2 separate regions of the Homo sapiens genome follow, and region 2 is linked to region 1. The links come from fine-mapping of genetic effects on gene expression. A gene starts in region 1. The other region holds a variant in brackets. All regions are shown on one strand. Distances are from middle to middle.

Region 1 (9,392 bases):
TTCTCTTCAGCCGCATAACATTTATTTTTCCATCCAAAGTCAGCTAGTTTCAATAATATAACTGGTCCTGACCACACATGTGGACCAATCTACATGCTTCACCCACCAGTGAAACAGCACCCCCCTGGAGGAGTTTCAGATGACAGCCCAGGACAGCTGGACTGTCCCGCTAAGGTGGCACTTGGGACTTCTCAGCATTACGACCAGTACTTCTTCCCCAGATCTGGGCCTGTGTGTGCCTCCTCCGTGATATTTTTAAAATTAAAAAATAAAATGGAATAAGTACAATGGGAAGACTGTCCAAAAATGGAAGGACTTTCCCATTTCTATTCAACTTTTGCTTATTTTCTGCTGATTTTCCTTTCTAAAAATATAGCCGATCCTAAGAATGGAAAACTTTGCACTCCTCAAGGGGAAGTGTAGTATGATGATGTATAAAGACTCAGTTCCTAGTGAATGTTCCACACACAGGTACCTCCACACTCATGTTGGATGCAGGCACACTCACAAGTTACAAAGATGTAGTGAGAATTCCTAATGTTTTCAGGAAGCTGTGCTTTAAAGCTGGAAGAAAGCCAGGCTGAAGAGACAGGACAGCCTAGAGAAGCTACGACAGGCCTCGGATTTGCAGGCAGGGCTGGATCCTCCCTACCCATAGCTGGCCCCCATATTTGAATTTCTAAACTCACTCAAATTTCATAATTTGCAATTTTGGCCTGGGAATACTAAGCATAGTACTAATGAGAGACTGATCCTTTATTTATTTTGGAGAGGGGAAAGGTACAAATACATATGGAGAGGCTGAAGCCATCAGTTATTTCTACACTAGTATGCATTAGTTCCAATTCCTTTCTCCTAAGTTTGTCAAGCTTGAACTCTGTGAAGAAAGGGAAATTTTGTTAGATGGGGAAGTACTGGGAAATGCTGACACATATAATTACCTAAGGCTAAGCTGGGCCCTAAGGTTACGGACAGAATGATGGGAAAATACTTGTAGGGAGAAGAATAGGTATTCAAAGGGGATGGGAAGAATGATTAAGATAAACCTGGCCTAATTTTTGTGTTTAGTCCCCAAAGGTCTTAGGCCACAGAGCTCTTGCTCCCTGAGCTTTAAGTTCAACCAGATGGCACTGCAGTTACTGACATTCTGAGCTAGCTAGGTTTCTGAGAACCAGCCCACATCATTTCTAAGGCGCAAATGCCTCCAAAGTCTCAAAACACTAGATTTTAAAGCAAACCTTTGATGAGAGTTAACTGTGGTCTGGAACCACATCCTGATAGCTCCAAAGGGAGTTAGGACAAAAGAGAATGCCAAATACAGGTGCAGATCCGAGGTACCCCTCAACCCCTCTACAGACAGCCTATAGGTATTTAGGCCTGAAAGAAAGCAAGCCAGGCAGGATGCAGAGACACACGGCAGGCAAGTGCTGGGGCTTCCTCCTCCCCAATTCCTCTCACCAGCAGGAAAGAGGTAGCTGCACTCAACCCATTCCCAAAGGATATAAAAATCAATATTGGAAAAATGCAGCCCCATAAGAAAAAAAATAACAGAAACAACAAACACAAAATCTTACAGTAAACCTCCCCAGGTAACGTTCTCGTTTACTTAACAAAAATCACTTATTCACCACATACTGGTTGCCATCAGGAAGAGGTCAAACAAAAGAATGTCACATTGACGTTCAGCTCTCAATGCCACACAGCACCGGGTTCTTTGGCGAATAGGGTTCATCCTAACAGAGAGGCTGTGTGTGATATGCCACGCTCTCAAACAGTGACAGTTTACGAACAGTCAATGCTTTCATGCTATCATATAATGGAAAATGAAATTCCGTTGACCAGAGAAAAATAACCTTAAGAATGAATTCAGAAGGGCTTTTTACACTTGAACATGAACTACAAAATGATGCTAAATATGAACTCACCCTAGCACTGTCTTCCCTCCTATCATTTTGTGGGGTAGGGAGAAACAGGCCAGCTCTTAGAGATGACCTGCAATGCTACAAAAATAAGCTCAACCCAGGCTTCTGTCTTTCTTCAATATGGAATTTTTAAATCCTACGATATTAGCTGGAGAGGGGCAAAGGTAATGAACACATCCTATAATAAAAGTGAGAGGTTTTGTTCCATGCTCGTGATGTCCCCTGTCCTCACCTCTTAAATGGCATCTAGTTATGTGAGAACAGGGGGAGAAACTGCAACAGAGGTGCAGAATTCGTTGCCACTGGAGCAGCTCCAGTTCTCGCTGAGCATCTAGGCGGATTCTCTGGGAACTGCCGTTTCCATGTCATTTTATTTCACATGCTACAGTTTAGAATTTCTAAGGAGAAAGAGATCGTGCATCCGAACACTAAACCGGAATAAAAATGTACAGGAGATACTAAGAATAGGACAGAAACCTGCTAAGTCTAAAATATATAAACCCGCCATAGCCAACAAAATAAGGCTTCCAAGAAAAGGGGGTGGAGGTGCAAAAGAGCCGGCTTCCCCTAAAGGGCCTGGCTGCAAGAATCCCTCTTTGGCCACTAAACGGTTTTAGCAGAACCACAGATTCGTTCTGAGGGGGACAATTTGGATTCGGATTCAGCAAGAAGTAGAAAAGGTGCAGACGCGGCCAAGAACAGGGCTCCCTCTGCAAAGAATCCAAGCCCAAAGGAAACGCGGAAGGGATGGAGAAGAGAGACGCGGGAACGAGCAGGGAGTCTCTCCCGTCCTACACTGGCGACTCAAGGGGGCATCGGCAGTCGGTGGGAGGCAGAGTGTGGTCTCCCAGCAGAGGCAAGTGTGCTGACCTCCAGGCCAGTGTCAGTGGAGGGGAGCTCTGAAGGGTCTGCAGACGCGCCCTCCGGAAACATCAGGTTTCAGTGGCATCCATCCAGATGAGGTTGGTGGCCCAAATCCAAATGTCCCATTCCTCTGCCCCATCATGAGACGACGGGGCAGGGACCCACTGTGACCCGCGTCCGCGATTAGAATCGGGGACTGCCCGAGACCAGAGGCCGCCCGAGTCCCGGCTCGCTCCCCTCCTTGCGCCCTTCGCCGGGGCGGGCAGCCGGGCGGCCGCCGAGGGACATCTCGCGGCTACACCCGCAGAGGGAAGTTCTCCCAGGCAGCCGGCGGAGCCGCAGGGGACTACGGAAAGGAGGATGCAACGAGCCTGGGTCCCTCCGAGCTGAGTAGGGCCCGGAGTGGCCCAGAAGCGCTCGACTCCGAACGCAAAAAATGCCTCCCGCAAACTTTTCCCGTGGGCGCCGGAGGGCCTGGAGCTGGCGGAGAGGAGGGCGCGAGTCCAGGCGGGGTCGGCCTGAAGGCAGCTGGGGTCTGGGCTTCGAGGGAAGGAACCGCAGCCGAGGCGGTGCCGGCCGCAGAAGGTGGGGCTGCCGCTCTCGGCTAGCGGCGTTCTCGCCGGGAAGTCGGGGCTCCGCGCCCCCGCGCGCTCCGAGCCCCGCGCCTCGCCCAGCGCGGCCCGCGAGTGGGGAGAGGCGGGCCCCGAGCAGCCACCCCGGTCGCCGGCCGGGTCGGGCAGCTCGCGCTCACCTCGGTCCTCCAGCCCGTCGCTGAACTGGCCGCTCTCGCTGATCCGCACCTGCCGCTCCTCCTCCAGCTGGGGCGGCTCGCGCACCGGGGAGCTCAGCGGGGCCGGGCCGGGGGCGGCAGCCGGTGGCGCGTGGCCCCGGGGCGGCGGCGGGACGGTGGGCCCCTGGGAGCTGCGGCGCTGGATGCCCGCGGCCGGCTCCATGGCGCGGGGCTGCGGATCCCGGCGGCGGCGACGACAAGCGCGGCGGGGACTCGAGTCAGAAGTGCGAGGCGCCGCGGCTCTGGCGGGGGCAGGAGCGGACGGACTGGCCGCGTGGACAGGGAGGGAGGGCGGGCGGGCGCCGCGGAGTGGAGGTGCACGGGCGGGGGCGGGGACGAGCGGAGAGCCGCTCGGCTCCGCGGCCGGTGGCGGAGGCTGGGGCCGCGTTGTTGCCGCCGCGCTCCGCCCCTGGGGGCAGGTGCGGGCGGCAGGGACCCGCCCCAAGGCCCGGGCGCGGGAGCCGGCGCACCGAGGCGGACGAGAGGGAGGAACCAGCGTGAGGACCCACAGGCGGCCCTGGCAGAGCTTGGCTAGGGCGTAGCGGGGACCCGCCCCACCTGCGCCGCGGGATGGTGCCCAGAGGGGACCCCTCCCACTGGATTCCTCTGGGGTCCGCGAAGCCCGCGGCCGCGCGTGGGTAGCAGACAGCGCCCCTAATTTGGCATCTTTCTCTTCTGGAGCTGCACAGGCTTCAGAGGCTGTACAGGGTCTTCGCCTGGGCCTCCATTCTCACTGCTCATCCAGGGAAAAAGGGTTCATCTGTCCCCAAGCCCGTCGCTCTCCGTCCTTCTCGGAGCTTTAACTCCCCTCCCAGTTTCTCCCTGGAGCACCCATTTAGCCAGGGATGGGGTATCTTTAGGACAGCGGGCGCTATAGAAGATGCTTGAACTCCGAGGCTTCCCCATTTCGACTCTTCCTGGGCCTTTGTCCCATACAGTTCGCTCCCCTGCTCATCTAAGTCTTGTGTGATCTTCAGAAATCCATGGAAGCCTCCCTTCTACGAGAAGTCTCCCCTACTCTGACCCCTGCAGCTCTTAATTCATTTTGTGCGGTGGGGCTGATCTCACCAGTGAGAGTCCACCGCAGGGCACACGCCAGCTCTCTTGATGCCCAGAGAGGAGCAAAAGAGGACCTGCTGTTTAATAAATTCAGCTTGGATTTGTTGAGGCTCAGAAAAGTATACCCCAACGTATGGCACTTTGGTATGCTAAGTTTGAACTAAAAAACTAAACAGGCCTCTGAAGCCGCCTTAGAAACAAAGTCTGTCTCCCCCCCGACTTTCTCCCCACTAAGCAGTTCACAGAAACCAGAATTCCTCTTCCCTACGGTGGTCATACAACCTAGAAATAGTACTCCAACCTCCCTGGTCCTCTGCCTTTCTGTGTAGGAGCTGGCCATGAAGAAATACTCAGACCTACCTTGTCTGATAGTAGATCCTGAGACCCTCATTCCAGAAGAGGTCCTGCTCTATACATGCTGCACAGAGAGGCCAAGAAGAATCTGAACAGGCCTCGCTGGGTTCAACCCTCAGTCTATTACCATTAGATCACACCCTTTGTCCAATCACATTTCTATAAGGCTGTCCATTCTTCACTGAATCTAAGCATAAAAACAGGCAGTTTTCCCTGAGTCTTTGCATCTTCATTTCTGAAGGCTCCTGTATCACATAAAACTTTGATTCAATAAATTTGTTACGCTTTTCTCTTATTAGCCTATCTTTTGTTATAAGCATGTTTGCCGTGCCCCTTATGATGGGGAGGAAAGTATCACACCTTTTCTGCCCCTACCGTTTCAATGGTATCAACATCCAAGCTCTAGAGTCCGGCTTTCGTCTTTAGATTGATTCAGTCTCTGAATTTAATCCGGGTACTCCAAAATGTCAATTCCTCATTTAAAGGAGTCCTCCTCGTTTCTTGAAGAGTCACCCTTTTCCTTTTTCTTGTCTGCTTTGCTTGTGATTGAAATGAGAGTAGGATTTAAATGCCTTTGTGGTGCACTGGAAATATCACCAGAAATGGGGAGAGGGGTCTTACTTTATTTTGTTGCTGCTGTTATTATTGTTGTTGCTGGATTGGAATGAGAAGATCTGAGTTGACCTTGACCAACTTACTTTACCTTGTTGACCACTAATTTCTTCAACTACAAATTGAAAGAGTTGAACTACGTCATTTCAAAGATCCCTTCCTGCTGCAAAGAAAAAGAAAAATGCTATGATTACTTGGATAAAGACAATGAAAATCTCTACCCATTAATCCTGGTTCTATCCTCTAAGGTAGAACATCCTTCAGATATATTTGCAGAGTCATCTCCTCCACTTTTTTCCTCCAGTCTATCCCATTTAATCCCCCTGTCAATGGCTCTCAAAGTATCACCTGGGGAGTCTAAGAACAAAAATACCGAAGCTTCGACTGCTAGAGATTCTGATATCATATTTAACGTGATCGTTCTTGGCTGGGACCTTGGCATGGGTATTTTGTAAGGCACTTCCCCATTCTAAGAGTCATCTGGGGGCTTAAAAAAAATTGGCTGGGCGTGGTGGCTCACGCTTGTAATCCCAGCACTTTGGGAGGCCAAGGTGGGCAGATCACAAGGTCAGGAGATCGAGACCATCCTGGCTAACATGGTGAAACCCCGTCTCTACTAAAAATACAGAAAATTAGCCGGGCGTGGTGGCAGGTGCCTGTAGTCCCGGCTACTCAGGAGGCTGAGGCAGGAGAATGGCATGAACCCAGGAGGCGGAGCTTGCAGTGAGCTGAGATCATGCCACTGCACTCCAGCCTGGGCGACAGAGCGAGACTCCATCTCAAAAAAAAAAAATTATTCCTCCCTGGCTCTCTGAGATTCTGGTTCAATAGATCTGGGATCTGGCTGGGAACCTTCCTTTAAACCCCTCTTGCCCCCCGGCCTCCAACACACATTCTGATGTCAATTATTCTGCAACCACCCTTTATGATTACTCTCCACAATATGGACCATCTAGCTCTGTGCCCTTCACATACACACACACACGGTCTGCAGCAGATTCTCACCAAAGGAACTGGTATCATTATTCTTTCCTCTGGTTCCTCAGTTGGTTCTGTAAGTCCAGCACATCTCAAAGGTGAGCGTGGCAATGAACATCCGCAATTCTTCTTAAAATGCTGATTCTAATTTAGTTGGTCTGGGATAGAGGCTGTCAACCTAAAAGGAAGAGGCTGAGGCACAAAATATAATTGAAAGAATTTGCTTGAGCCCAAATGAGGACAGCTACCCAGGACGTTTCTAAGTTGCCTTGAGGAGTGCTCCATTAGCCTTTGTTATAAGCAGGTTTTTAAAGGCAAAGGGAACAAAGAGAGGGCCGATATAAAGTTGTGTGACAGGAATCCTCATTGGTTTGCAGAGATAACTTGGCTATAGATTGTTGAACTGTCGGGTAGGAGTTATGGTGTCCAGTGTATGGCCATTTTATGGCTATTTGGCATAAATTAGTCTAGAGCCCACATAGTCAGTGGCTTCTAGAGATCATTATTTCACTCAAATGGTTGTCACTTGCTGCTGTTTCATTCCAGTAAGTCTCTGGGGCTGATAATGTAAAGGGGCTTGCATTCCTCAGATTAAAAGTTTCTTTTTTTTGTTTGTTTTCCACCAGGCTGAGATGCTGTTTCTAACAAACCTCCCGATGCTGCTGATGCTGCATATCTGAAGACCACACTTTGAGAAGCAAGGATCTAGGAGTTGTTTGTTATTCATGGAATAAATATATTTCCCATCATGTTCCAGCTGCTCTGGTTAAACAAGCCACTATTGTCTTTTCCAGAAAGATTTCTCTGACTCCAGCTCCCCTTTGGGTGCTCCTTTTTCTAAACTGTAATTGATTAATAATTCACCATTTATTTCATGTGTGGAGCAGGGATAGTGGTGCTTGCCTGATGTGCATTCCTTACAAACACCTACCTGGGCATCGGGGACACAGTGTCCCCTCAAACAATCTCTGCTGATTAACTGGAAGATAACACTAGCTTACATTTTTGGAGGACATACCATGTGCCGGGTACCTAGCTAAGTGTTTTACATGCATTGTCTCCCTCATTCAGCTACTACTGTCCTCATTTCACAGATGAACAAACAAAGGCCGATCTGCCTTGTCGACCTCTGCCCACCACCATAATCCACAGGGGTACTGCCCGCTAGGGGGCATTTTGGAAATTTGCAGGTACTTTCATTGGTCATCACAATGATGGGAGGAGGGGGCCACTGACATTTAGTTGGGGGTGGCCCCAGATGCAGGAGATTGGTCTGTGTCCCACATGGCTTTCATTTGTCAGACCTGACCTTTGCTTCAGTTGAAATGTGCATCGAATTACGGTGGAACTTTAACTTTGTTTTACATATAAACACAAAATGTTTTTGCATCTTGTGAATACACACAGGAATTTCTGGAAATGCAACTACTGTATAAGTCTAGGAAGGGATGGTACTCTTTTTACCACTTTGGAAAATCAGGACACAGAAGCCAGTTCCATTCATGTTATCTGTTTCAGCAATCAACACATATATGATGCCCACAAGCCCAGTAATTTCATATGTGTATATTTCTTTAGTTCCTGTTTCAAAATAACAGCAATTTAAAGAAAAAGTGTAAAAAATATTCCAGAGTGCCTGACTCTCTGTTCTTAAATTATAAATAGGTACAAATATCTGACTGCTTATTTGTGACCTCTGGTGTAGCTCTGAGTGAGCATTTAAATATTAATTATGTATTACTTTATTTTATTCCTCCTCTATTATAATTTAGGTCATTATATTGATTTTTCAACTATGTGTATATGCATTAGCCATGAATTAATTTCATAATCACAATAGTGAATAATGTAAAACAGTTGGGGCCAGGCACAGTGGCTCACGCCTGTAATCCCAGCACTTTGGGAGGCCGAGGCAAAAGGATCACCTGAGGCTAGGAGTTTGAGACCAGCCTGGTCAACATGGTGAAACCTTGTCTTTACCAAAAATACAAAAATTAGCCAGGCCTGGTGGTGCACACCTGTAATCCCAGTTACTCGGGAGGCTGAGGCAGGAGAATTGCTTAACCTGGAAGGCAGAGGCTGCAGTGAGCCAAGATTGTGCCACTGCACTCCAGCCTGGGTGACAGAACGAGACTTTGTCTCAAAAAATAAATAAATAAATAAATAAATAAATAAATAAATAACCAAACAAAACAGTTGGTATAAAAAGGGAGACTGGACCATTACAGCCAAAAGATCCTGAGGAGACACAACCACTAGCTGAAATATGGCATTGTGGAAGAAATCCTGGAACAAAAAAAAGACATTAGGTAAAAATCAAGGAATTCTGAATCAAGTATGGACTTCAGTTAGTAAGGTCTCAATTATTAGTTGTAAAAAAAAGTGCACTCATGTGAGATGTTAGTAATGAGGGCACTGGGTGCAAGGTACATGGAACTTTCTAATCTTCTCAACTTTATGCAAATCTAAAACTGTTGTAAAAAAGGAAAGCTGAGGAAGGGCTTCAAGACAGCTGATTAGAAGCATTTCATGCCCACCTCTTCCACTTAGTGTGTATAGACAGTCATACTTTGAATACACCATCCAAGAGAGAATGTCGGGATTCAATAGAGAAGTAACAAGAAACACCAGAAAGCAGGTAAGAAGGGAGAGAGACAGCCTGCCTGGAGGGGATGAACTGGGAGCAGGAGTAACTTCCCAAGGCAAGGAAAGGGTGAGTGACTTCCAGAGGCCCACATCCCCACCATGGAATCCTGCATTCCTGCCACAAGAGAGTCCCTCAACCCTCCCAACTCCTGACACTAACATAGGGA
Region 2 (9,392 bases), 27 kb before region 1:
ATTGAGCAGCAATGGAAGAAATGACCTTCAATCTTCATCAAAGTATTAATCCTGTTCTAATGTCTTATAATACTAAGCAACAGATTATCTTCCTTTCAGGACTCAGACACACCGCCCCACTCCCTCCTCCCTGCTACCACACACGCACACTCTCTTTGGAACTATGGTATCCACTAGCCACATGTAGGTACTGAGTACATGAAACGTGGCTAAGTGGCTAGTCCAAACTGAAATGTACTCCATGTGTAAAGCACACACTGGATTCCAAAGATTTCACATGAAAAATAGAATGTAAAATATCTCAATAATTCTTATATTTTATTACCAAGTATAATATTTTGGATATACTGGGATAAATAAAAATATCAGCAAAATTAATTTTATGTTTCTTTTTACTTCTTTGTTTAATGGAGTGCCTAAGTTTTTTGTTTTGTTTTTTTTTTTTTTTTGAGATGGAGTCTCGCTCTGTCACCCAGGCTGGAGTGCAATGGCATGATCTTGGCTCACGGCAACCTCTGCCTTCCAGATTCAAGCGATTCTCCTATCTCAGCCTCCCAAGTAGCTGGGATTACAGGCATGCATCACCACGCCTGGCTAAGTTTGTATTTTTAGTAGAGATGGGGTTTCACCATGTTGGTCAGGTTGGTCTCAATCTCCTGACCTCAGGTGATCTGCCTGCCTCGGCCTCCCGAACTGCTGGGATTACAGGCATGAGCCACCATGCCTGGAGACAATTTTTAATTACACATGAGAGTCACATTTGTGACTAGAATTATATTTTGTTTCTATTGGACAGCACTGGTCTAGGGACTCAGCTCACTTCCCCAAATGACTAGCACTGTGACATCCTCTCCAACTGCCCACTCCTGAGAGGCCTGCTGCCACTCAAAGGAACTCAGAGGTCCAGAAACTTCCAGGGAGGCCTGCTTCAGGGATGGGGCTTCCTTGAGGAAAACAAGATGAGAGAGGTGGGGGAAACGTTCACAGTTCATCTCTCCCTAGTGCACATGAATGAGTTCAGAGGAAAAGATACAGTTAGAAAAACTAATAGCTTGTGCTTTTATGACCAAATGTTATGGCTTCCTAAATTTTAACAGCCAAATGTACCACAAAGTTACACATTTTAACTTTATTTCAAATAAACACCCAAGCAAATATAGGTCCCCATCAAAAATGTGGTTTCTCCAAAGAACGGCATGCAGAGCCCAAAAGTAAAAGTCAACTTGCTCCTTTGCGGTTTGTTTGTTTGTTTGTTTGTTTGTTTGTTTTTGGAGGCAGAGTCTCACCCTGGCACTCAAGCTGGAATGCAGTGGTGTGATCTCGGCTCACTGCAATTTCCACCTCCTAGGTTCAAGCAACTCTCGTGCCTCAGCCTCTGAAATAGCTGGGACTACAGGCACGCACCACCATGCCTGGCTAATTTTTGTATTTTTAGTAGAGACAAGGTTTCGGCATGTTGGCCAGGCTGGTCTCCAACTCCTGACCTCAAGTGATCCACCCGCCCCGGCCTCCCAAAGTGCTGGGATTACAGGGGTGAGCCACCGTACCCGGCCTCTTTGCATTTATATACACTGGATATCCATCAAGTTATCAAACTTTACCTACATCAGCAATTTTTTTTTTTTTGAGACAGAGTCTCACTCTGTTGCCCAGGCTGGAGTGCAGTGGCATGATCTTGGCTCACTGTAACCTCCACCTCCTGGGTTCCAGCAATTCTCCTGCCTCAGCCTCCTGAGTAGCTGGGATTACAAGTGTGTGCCACCATACCTGGCTAATTTTTTAATTTTTAGTAGAGACAGGGTTTCACCATGATAGCCAGGCTGGTCTTGAACTCCTGACCTCAAGTGATCCGCCAGCCTCAGCCTCCCAGTGCTGGGATTACAGGCATGAGCCACCGCACTCAGCCTATATCGGCAATTTATAAAGGAGAAAAGTCACAAATCAAGGTGAAGGATGGATTTCATTTACCACAAGAAAAGCCACTGAATTCTTCAGAGCCTTGAGCAAACTATGAAAAAACCCAATCCTTCCCTCTGACACAATTAAGAACTTCATGACTTTGGCTTTCTTTACACAGCTATTCTCAAGGCTGACTAATTAGACCTTGTATAATCACAGTTGTGGCCATTCCCACCAGTGTAAAGCCTAATACTAGCAAAATGCAAATATCAGTGAAACGGAAATACACTACTAAAGTAAAGACAGGGCCCTGGATAACGACTTTGAGAGACAACTTCCTCATTCATTTATTCAAGAAACCCTGACTACCCATCTACCTGGTCCAGGCAATCGGTGCCCCAGGGGTGGGTGACAAAACGGAGGAGATCAGGTCCCACACTCCAGGCGCTCACAGTGTGGCTGGCGGGAATGGTAGTCAGGGGTGGGGGAGGCACTCTGCCAATCACTGGGGAAATAGGAGGGCAGTGGTTCATACAAACAGCAGTGAGGGCCTCAGCAGGGAGCAGCCAACTCTCCCAGAGCAGGACTTTGGGGAGAACAGGGGAGAAATCAAAATGCCTGGTGAGTTCCAAGAACAAGGGTAGCAAAGCCCCCTCTTCATCTCTCTGCTGCTGGCCTTCTGCAGAAAAGGGGATCTCAAGTCAGCACCTGTCATTCCACAAGTAGACCCGTGTCCCTGGAGGAGCAGTCAAGTCACTGAGTCTGCCTAGCGTAGGCACCAAACATCAAGAAGCCCTTGTGGCTGTACTGAGAGCCCCATTCTCCAATCCGGGTTTCTCAGCCATGAAGCTGATATTTTGCTTTCCCTCTGTTTGACTCCTCTCTGGTTCTGAACTTGGGAAGAGAAAATGAATGTTATTCATTGTATTTCCAAACAACTCTATTGTAAATACACACACACGTGCATGTACACATACACATGCTCATACAGACATGCACACATGCGCACGTACACCCTTGTCAGACAACCCTAGGTGCCGCCAGGCTTCTCCAATAGACAGCACTATGCTGACAGTCCCTTTCCTTCTCCAATGCTCATGCCCATCTCTTGGCAACCTGGCTTCCTTGTTTACCACTCTGACAAAATGTTCTCTGCAGAGTCACAAAGTGACATCCTAAACACCAACTCCAATGAACAGTCTCCTCAGCCTTGACCCTGGCTGGCATGTAACATCGCTGGTCACACCTTCTTGAAGTGTTGTATTTGCCTTTCTGTATCCTTGTACAATCCTTGCTCCACATCCTAATCCCTAGAACCTGTGCACGTTACCTTAATAAGCAACAAATAGGATTGAGGCAGGGGCTGCAGTGGATATCTTTGCAGATGTGATTAATTTCAGAACCGTAGCAGGAGTGATGACCCTGAGTTATCCAGGTGGGCCTTAAATGCCATCACAAGTGTCCTCATAAGAGACAGGTGGAGGGAGATTTGACACAGGGAGAAGTAGAGAGAGATTTGAAGATGCCAGCCTTAAAGACTGGAGTGATATGCCCATGAGCCAAGGAATGCCAGCAGCCACCAAGAACAGAAGAAACAAAGAAAGTATTCTTCCCTACACCTCTGCAGGAGCACAGCCCTGCTGACCCTTCACTTCAGCCCAGCGATCCTGATTTTGGACTTCTGGTCTCCAGAAATGTGAAAGAATAAATAGATCTTGTTATTAGAAGCCACCAAGTTTGCAGTCATTTGTTACAACAGCCAGAGAAAATGAATACATTCCCTTCAACTTTTCTGACCTCTATGTCTTCCACTAGTTCCTTATCATCTTCCTACCCCAAGAGAAGTCATTCTCCAAATTCTGTCCTTTGCCGTTTCCCCTCCTTAGTCTGCTTGGGCTGCCATAACAAAATACCACAGGCTGGGGGACTTCAACACCATGAATTTATTTCTCACAGCTTTGGAGGCTGGAAGTCCAAGATCCAGGGGCTGGGAGGGTTGGTGTCTGGGGAGGGCTCCCCGTGGGTTCCAGATGGCTGCCTCCTCACTGCGTCCTCACACGGCCGTTCCTCAGTGCAGAGGGTGGAGGCAGAGAAGAAGCAAGCCCTCTGGTGTCTCTTCTTATAAGTGCACAATCCCATCACGAGAGTCCTGCCCTCATCACCTCATCATCCTCATGACCTTGTGTAAACTGAGCCACCTCCCAAAGCCTCCCCCTCCAAATACCATCACACTGTGGGTGACAGCTTCACATATTTATTTTGAGGAATACAATTCAGTCCAAAGCAGTTCCTCTCTCCTCCTCATGATCCCAGGCTACTTCACCCATCCACCACATTGCCTCAGTCATTGCCCTAAAGCAAAACACTCCCAAATCCATCTTTCTTCCAGCACCTCAGTCACGTTCCAGTTGCAGGTTTCCAACTGATCATCAGTTGTCTCCTTCCCAAAGTACTGCCAGGCCATAACCCAGCATCTTCACACTGAAGACATCTCTGGACCCCCCTGTGCCTCAGCCTCCACAGTGCCACAGAACCCTTGCTTTGTCTCTAATCCCTTATTTCTTTTAGAGATTCTGCCCTCCCCACCCTCTAGGCTCTGGAACTCTTTACTCTCCCTCTTCATCCAGAAACCTTGAGTATTAGCAGATACTGATATGGGCCCTGCTTGAAGAGTAAGACATTTAAAAAAATAAATTTTAACATTGGTTTAAAACTCCAGCAATTGTAGGTGATCAAAAACTGAAACCTTTCCAGACGTGGTGGCTCATGCCTGTAATCCCAGCACTTTGGCAGGCCAAGGCGGGTGGATCACCTGAGGTCAGGAGTTCGAGACCACCCTGGCCAACATGGCGAAACCCCATCTCTACTAAAAATAGAAAAAAATTAGCCGGGCATGGAAGCATGTGCCTGTAATCCTGGCTACTCAGGAGGTTGAGGCAGGAGAATTGCTTGAGCCCAAGAGGCAGAGGTTGCAGTGAGCCAAGATTGCAACACTGCACTCCAGCCTGGGCAACAAGAGCAAAAACTACATCAAAAAAAAAAAAAAAAAAAAAACCTGAAACTGAGCCTACAGCATGATGGAGCTTTTAAAAACAAATCAACCTTGACCTGCTTTGGTAGGAATTACTGTGAATTCCATACCTGTCAGATAGCAG[G/T]TCTACTATATTCTCTGTTGATGACATGACTTAGAAGACACCTCTGGGCACTGCTTTAAACAGGACACCTTTAGGTCCAGACAAGGTTGGCCAGGAGAGTGGGTTTCCTCCTACATGAGGAACAGCTGAAGAGTCTGGGGATGTTCAGTCTTTGGAAGAGGTGACAAAACAACACAATAAGCTCGCACTGCAGATCTGTCTTGTGAACAATGGAGATGGGTCCCATGGTTGAGAGTAGAGGCTCTGAGTCAAGTAGGGCAGAGTGTGAATACTCTATCTCTTATGAGCTTGGAAACTTAGGAAAGCTCCCTAACTTTTCTGAGTCTTAAAATCCCCATCTACAAAGTGGGGATGATAATGTTACCTCAGGGCAATGTTGCAAGAATGAAGTGTGATCTGTGGGAAGCACTTAGCACAGTGCCCAGCATACTATGTGCTTGCTAAGTGTTAGCTAAGAAAATAATGACTATAAAAGAGGAGTTAGAAAAAGGTAAACCATTCAATTAACCATTTAAAAAGCTTTCTGAAATTGGGACTGGGCAACATAAACTGGGTCTCGCTAAGTTATTAGAATCCCAGTACTAGAAGTATTCAAACAAAAGCTGAAGAACTATTGGAATTGACCTAAAGAGGGTAACGAATCTCTAATGATGGCATCTGGGAAGAATGGCACTGCCCATACTGGAGAACTAAAGGACTAGTGTCATTATCATGGTGACTTTATCACTTAAAGGTACTGAGATTTACTTACCACTAAGAACTTATTTCACCAGAAATAAATCACATCTGTCCTTGCTTTGGATAAAAAAATGGCCATCTTTTGTAATGCAGAATTCATTCCCTAAGAATGCTCTCTTTATGGGACATGTAAAGTTTAAGCTTCTCCTTTCAGGAGACTGGTACATCAATTACTCTGTAATAAATATCTATTCAGTTCTGATACCATATCTCCTCATTCACACTGAAGAATAACCTGGGATTAGATCCAAACTCTCACAAAATGACTATATACACACATTATTCTTTAAAAAATATAGCAGAAAGTTTCCATTTTGAAAATGTACTTTATCAAATGAACAAAGATCAACTGACATCTAAAAATACTACAATGTCTCTAAGTATAATTAACTGGAATGCCAGAAATCTCCCGGGATAAATAAAAGCATAATGTAAAAGGAACCCAGGTAAAAAGAAATACAAACTCCACGGTTTTCTGGAAAGAAAAAAACTGGTGGTGAAAGTTTTTTTATTTCCCTGAATTCCTCCTTAAAGACATCAGAAAAACTAAAATAGCAAAACCAATAACAAAGCTAATACTTTTAGAGAACTAAATGATGGAAAGGAGGAAAAAAAAATTTTTTTTGAGACGGAGTCTCGCTCTGTCACCCAGGCTAGAGTGCAGTGGTTCAATCTCGGCTCACTGCAACCTCCGCCTCCCGGATTCAAGCAATTCTCCTGCCTCAGCCTCCTGAGTAGCTGGGATTACAGGTGCCCATCACCACACCTGGCTAATTTTTTGTATTTCCAGTAGAGATGGGGTTTCACCATGTTGGCCAGGCTGGTCTCGAACCCCTGACCTCAGGTGATTCACCCATCTCGGCCTCCCAGTAGCTGGGATTACAGGCGTGAGCCACCGTGCCCGGGCAAATTTTTAATCAAAAAGAAATGAAAAATAAAAATGATGTGGAAAAAAATACTAGATAAAAATGACAAGCAAAAAAGAGCCAACATACACATACATTATAAATCCCTAAGGAATTAAATCAAAGCAACAGAACAGAACAAATACTATAAAAACTGTAGTTTTCTTGAACTAGAAAGACATGAAACTACCTTTTACCTGAAAAAAGTTAACCCAGAAGAGCTATTACCAAGATACAGTTGTTTTATATAGTGTTTTCTGTGCCCAAAGTTCTTCTTAGTCAGCTTGAAGTTAAATTTTTTGAAGTTTCTATTCATGGTTTGTGCTTTCTGTGTCTTAAATTCAAAAGCCTTTCTTTTACTTCCAGGTCAAATGGAGAGTCTCATATTATTGTTTAAAAGTTTTGGTTGGGCATGGTAGCTCATGCCTGTAATTGGGAAGCCAAGGCAGGCAGATCACCTGAGGTCAGGAGTTCCAGACCAGCCCGGCCAATATGGCGAAACCCCGTCTCTACTAAAAATACAAAAAATTAGCCAGGCGTGGTGGTGGGTGCCTGTAATCCCAGCTATCAGGAGGCTGAGGTAGGAGAATTTCTTGAACCTAGGAGGCGGAGGTTGCAGCAAGTCGAGATCATGCCATTGCACTCCAGCCTGGGCAACAAGAGAAAGACACCGTCTCAAAAAAAAAAAAAAAAAGGTTTAAATTCTTTCTTTTCAGGTTTAGTTTCTTAAATCACATGGAATTTATATTTGTATATGTGGGAGGTACAAACTTATTTTAGTTTTTCCATATAGACAGCCAATTGTGGTGGTATCATTATTTCCCTCCCTGATGTGTGATGCTACCTCTCTCACATATCCAATTTCCATATATGTGGTTACTATTTCTGGACTCCCTATTCAACTTTCCTGGTCTATTTGTTCCTAAAAATATCACAATCTCAACTGCCCTAGTTTTAGAAGTTTTGAGATATATATGCACCTTGTTCTTGAAAATTATCTTGACTATTCTTAGCCCTTTATTCCTCCATCAACATTTCAGAGCTTACCAACTGCACTGGAAAAAGCCTATTGGAATTCTTAGTGAAATTGCATGTATTAGGGTTAATATAAGGAGAAATGACATCCTTATTAGATTGTCTTCCCAGCTCTGAACATGAGATTTCTCTCTATTCAGATCTTATTTTATCATTTTAATAGCATTTTATAATTTTCTTCATGAAGGAATTATACCTATATTAGATTTATTCCTTTTGGTTTGTTGCTATGAGAAATGACATCATTATGAAAATTAAAAATGTATTGCTGTGTTGCTATTATATAAGAATACATTTGATTTTAGTATATTAAACTTCTACCCATCCCCAGCAGCTTTGTTGGAATTTCTTACTTCTAATAGTATCTGCAGAATCCCTTGGCTTTTCTTTTGTTTTGCTCTTGTCACTCAGGCTAGAGTGCAGTGGCATGATCTCAGCTTACTGCAACCTCCACCTCCCAGGTTCAAGCGATTCTCCTTCCTCAGCCCCCCGAGTAGCTGGGATTACAGGCACCCGCCACCATGCCCAGGTAATTTTTGTATTTTTAGTAGAGAGGGGATTTCGCCATGTTGGCCAGGCTGGTCTCGAATTCCTGACCTCAGGTGATCTGCCCACCTTGACCTCCCAAAGTTCTGGGATTACAGGTGTGAGCCACCATGCCCGGCTTCCCTTAGCTTTTCTATGTAGAGCTATGGAAAGCTCTATATTGACTATAATATCTATAAAGCTCTATGTAAACTATAATATCCACAAGCAATGATGGTTACTTTTTTCCTCCCCAATCCATATACAGTACCTTTCTTTCTTTTGCTTGCCCTACTATACTGGGTAGGACATCACGTATAATAATAAGGAGAAGTGGTAACAGCAGACGTCCTTATCTTCATTTTAGATTTTTATGGGCTGAGTCTGCCTAATTTACCAGTTACAATTAATATTTTAGGTTAAATAACCTTTATCAGCAATTCCCAGCCTGGTTGCTAAAAGTTTTTATCTTGTCTTGAATTTTACCAAATGCTTTTTGTATTGAGAGATACTATAGGTTTCTTCTCAATTTTTTTTTTTTTTTTTTGAGATGGAGTTTCACTCTTGTCACCCAGGCTGGAGTGCAGTGGTGCACTCTCAGCTGACTGCAACCTCCGCCTCCCGGGTTCAAGTGATTCTCCTGCCTCAGCCTCCCAAGTAGCTGGGATTACAGGTGCCTGCCACCATGCCCACCTAATTTTTACATTTTTAGTAGAGACGGGGTTTCGCCATGTTGGCCAGGCTGGTCTCGAACTCCTGACCTTTTATGAACATGGTAAATTACATAATAAACATTCTGATTATATCATCCTAGATTCCAAAAATAAACACATGTGGTGAGCATGTTCATTTATTTATTTATTTTTATATAAACACAATGAGATTTAGTTTGCAAATATCTTATTAAAGACTTTTTGTATCTATATTCATGAGTGATACTGACCTATAAATTCTCTGTTGCCTTTGATTTAGGTATCACAGTAGTAGTAGTCCCAAAATGATATAGGAAGCTTTCCTTCTTTTTCTGTAGAATGGAGTGCATGAGATTGGGATTATCTGATCCTTGAACATTCATAAAAGCACTCATAAAGCCACTGCTGGCCTAGATCAGAGTTTCTCAACCATGGGCACCACT

Which allele goes with the higher level. Alleles are on the strand shown, and positions count from the first base shown. SD is a standard deviation of normalised expression in the study named.
As copies of T replace G in region 2, the expression in thyroid of the gene that starts at base 3,804 in region 1 goes up (small effect, 0.36 SD a copy in GTEx).

Evidence for each region. PIP is the estimated chance that this variant, and not a neighbour inherited with it, causes the effect.
Region 2: its variant is the best candidate, but not a certain one, in a credible set for the expression of TMEM163 in thyroid (GTEx, PIP 0.73).

The regions. Positions count from the first base shown.
Region 1 is chr2:134,715,197-134,724,588 of GRCh38, forward strand. TMEM163 (transmembrane protein 163) reads right to left here and starts at 3,804. Exons shown (of 8, transcript NM_030923.5): 1 at 3,538-3,804. The coding sequence starts at 3,739. It overlaps LOC105373629 (a long non-coding RNA gene), which reads left to right and starts at 2,916. Exons shown (of 2, transcript XR_923354.4): 1 at 2,916-3,371; 2 at 7,206-7,328. RefSeq lists a silencer at 3,888-4,127 and an enhancer at 5,830-7,029.
Region 2 is chr2:134,688,678-134,698,069 of GRCh38, forward strand. All of the region lies in intron 2 of TMEM163 (transmembrane protein 163), which reads right to left. Among named protein-coding and RNA genes, the nearest start is that of TMEM163, 26 kb to the right of the region's middle. The variant G/T (reference allele first, on the strand shown) is at 5,055.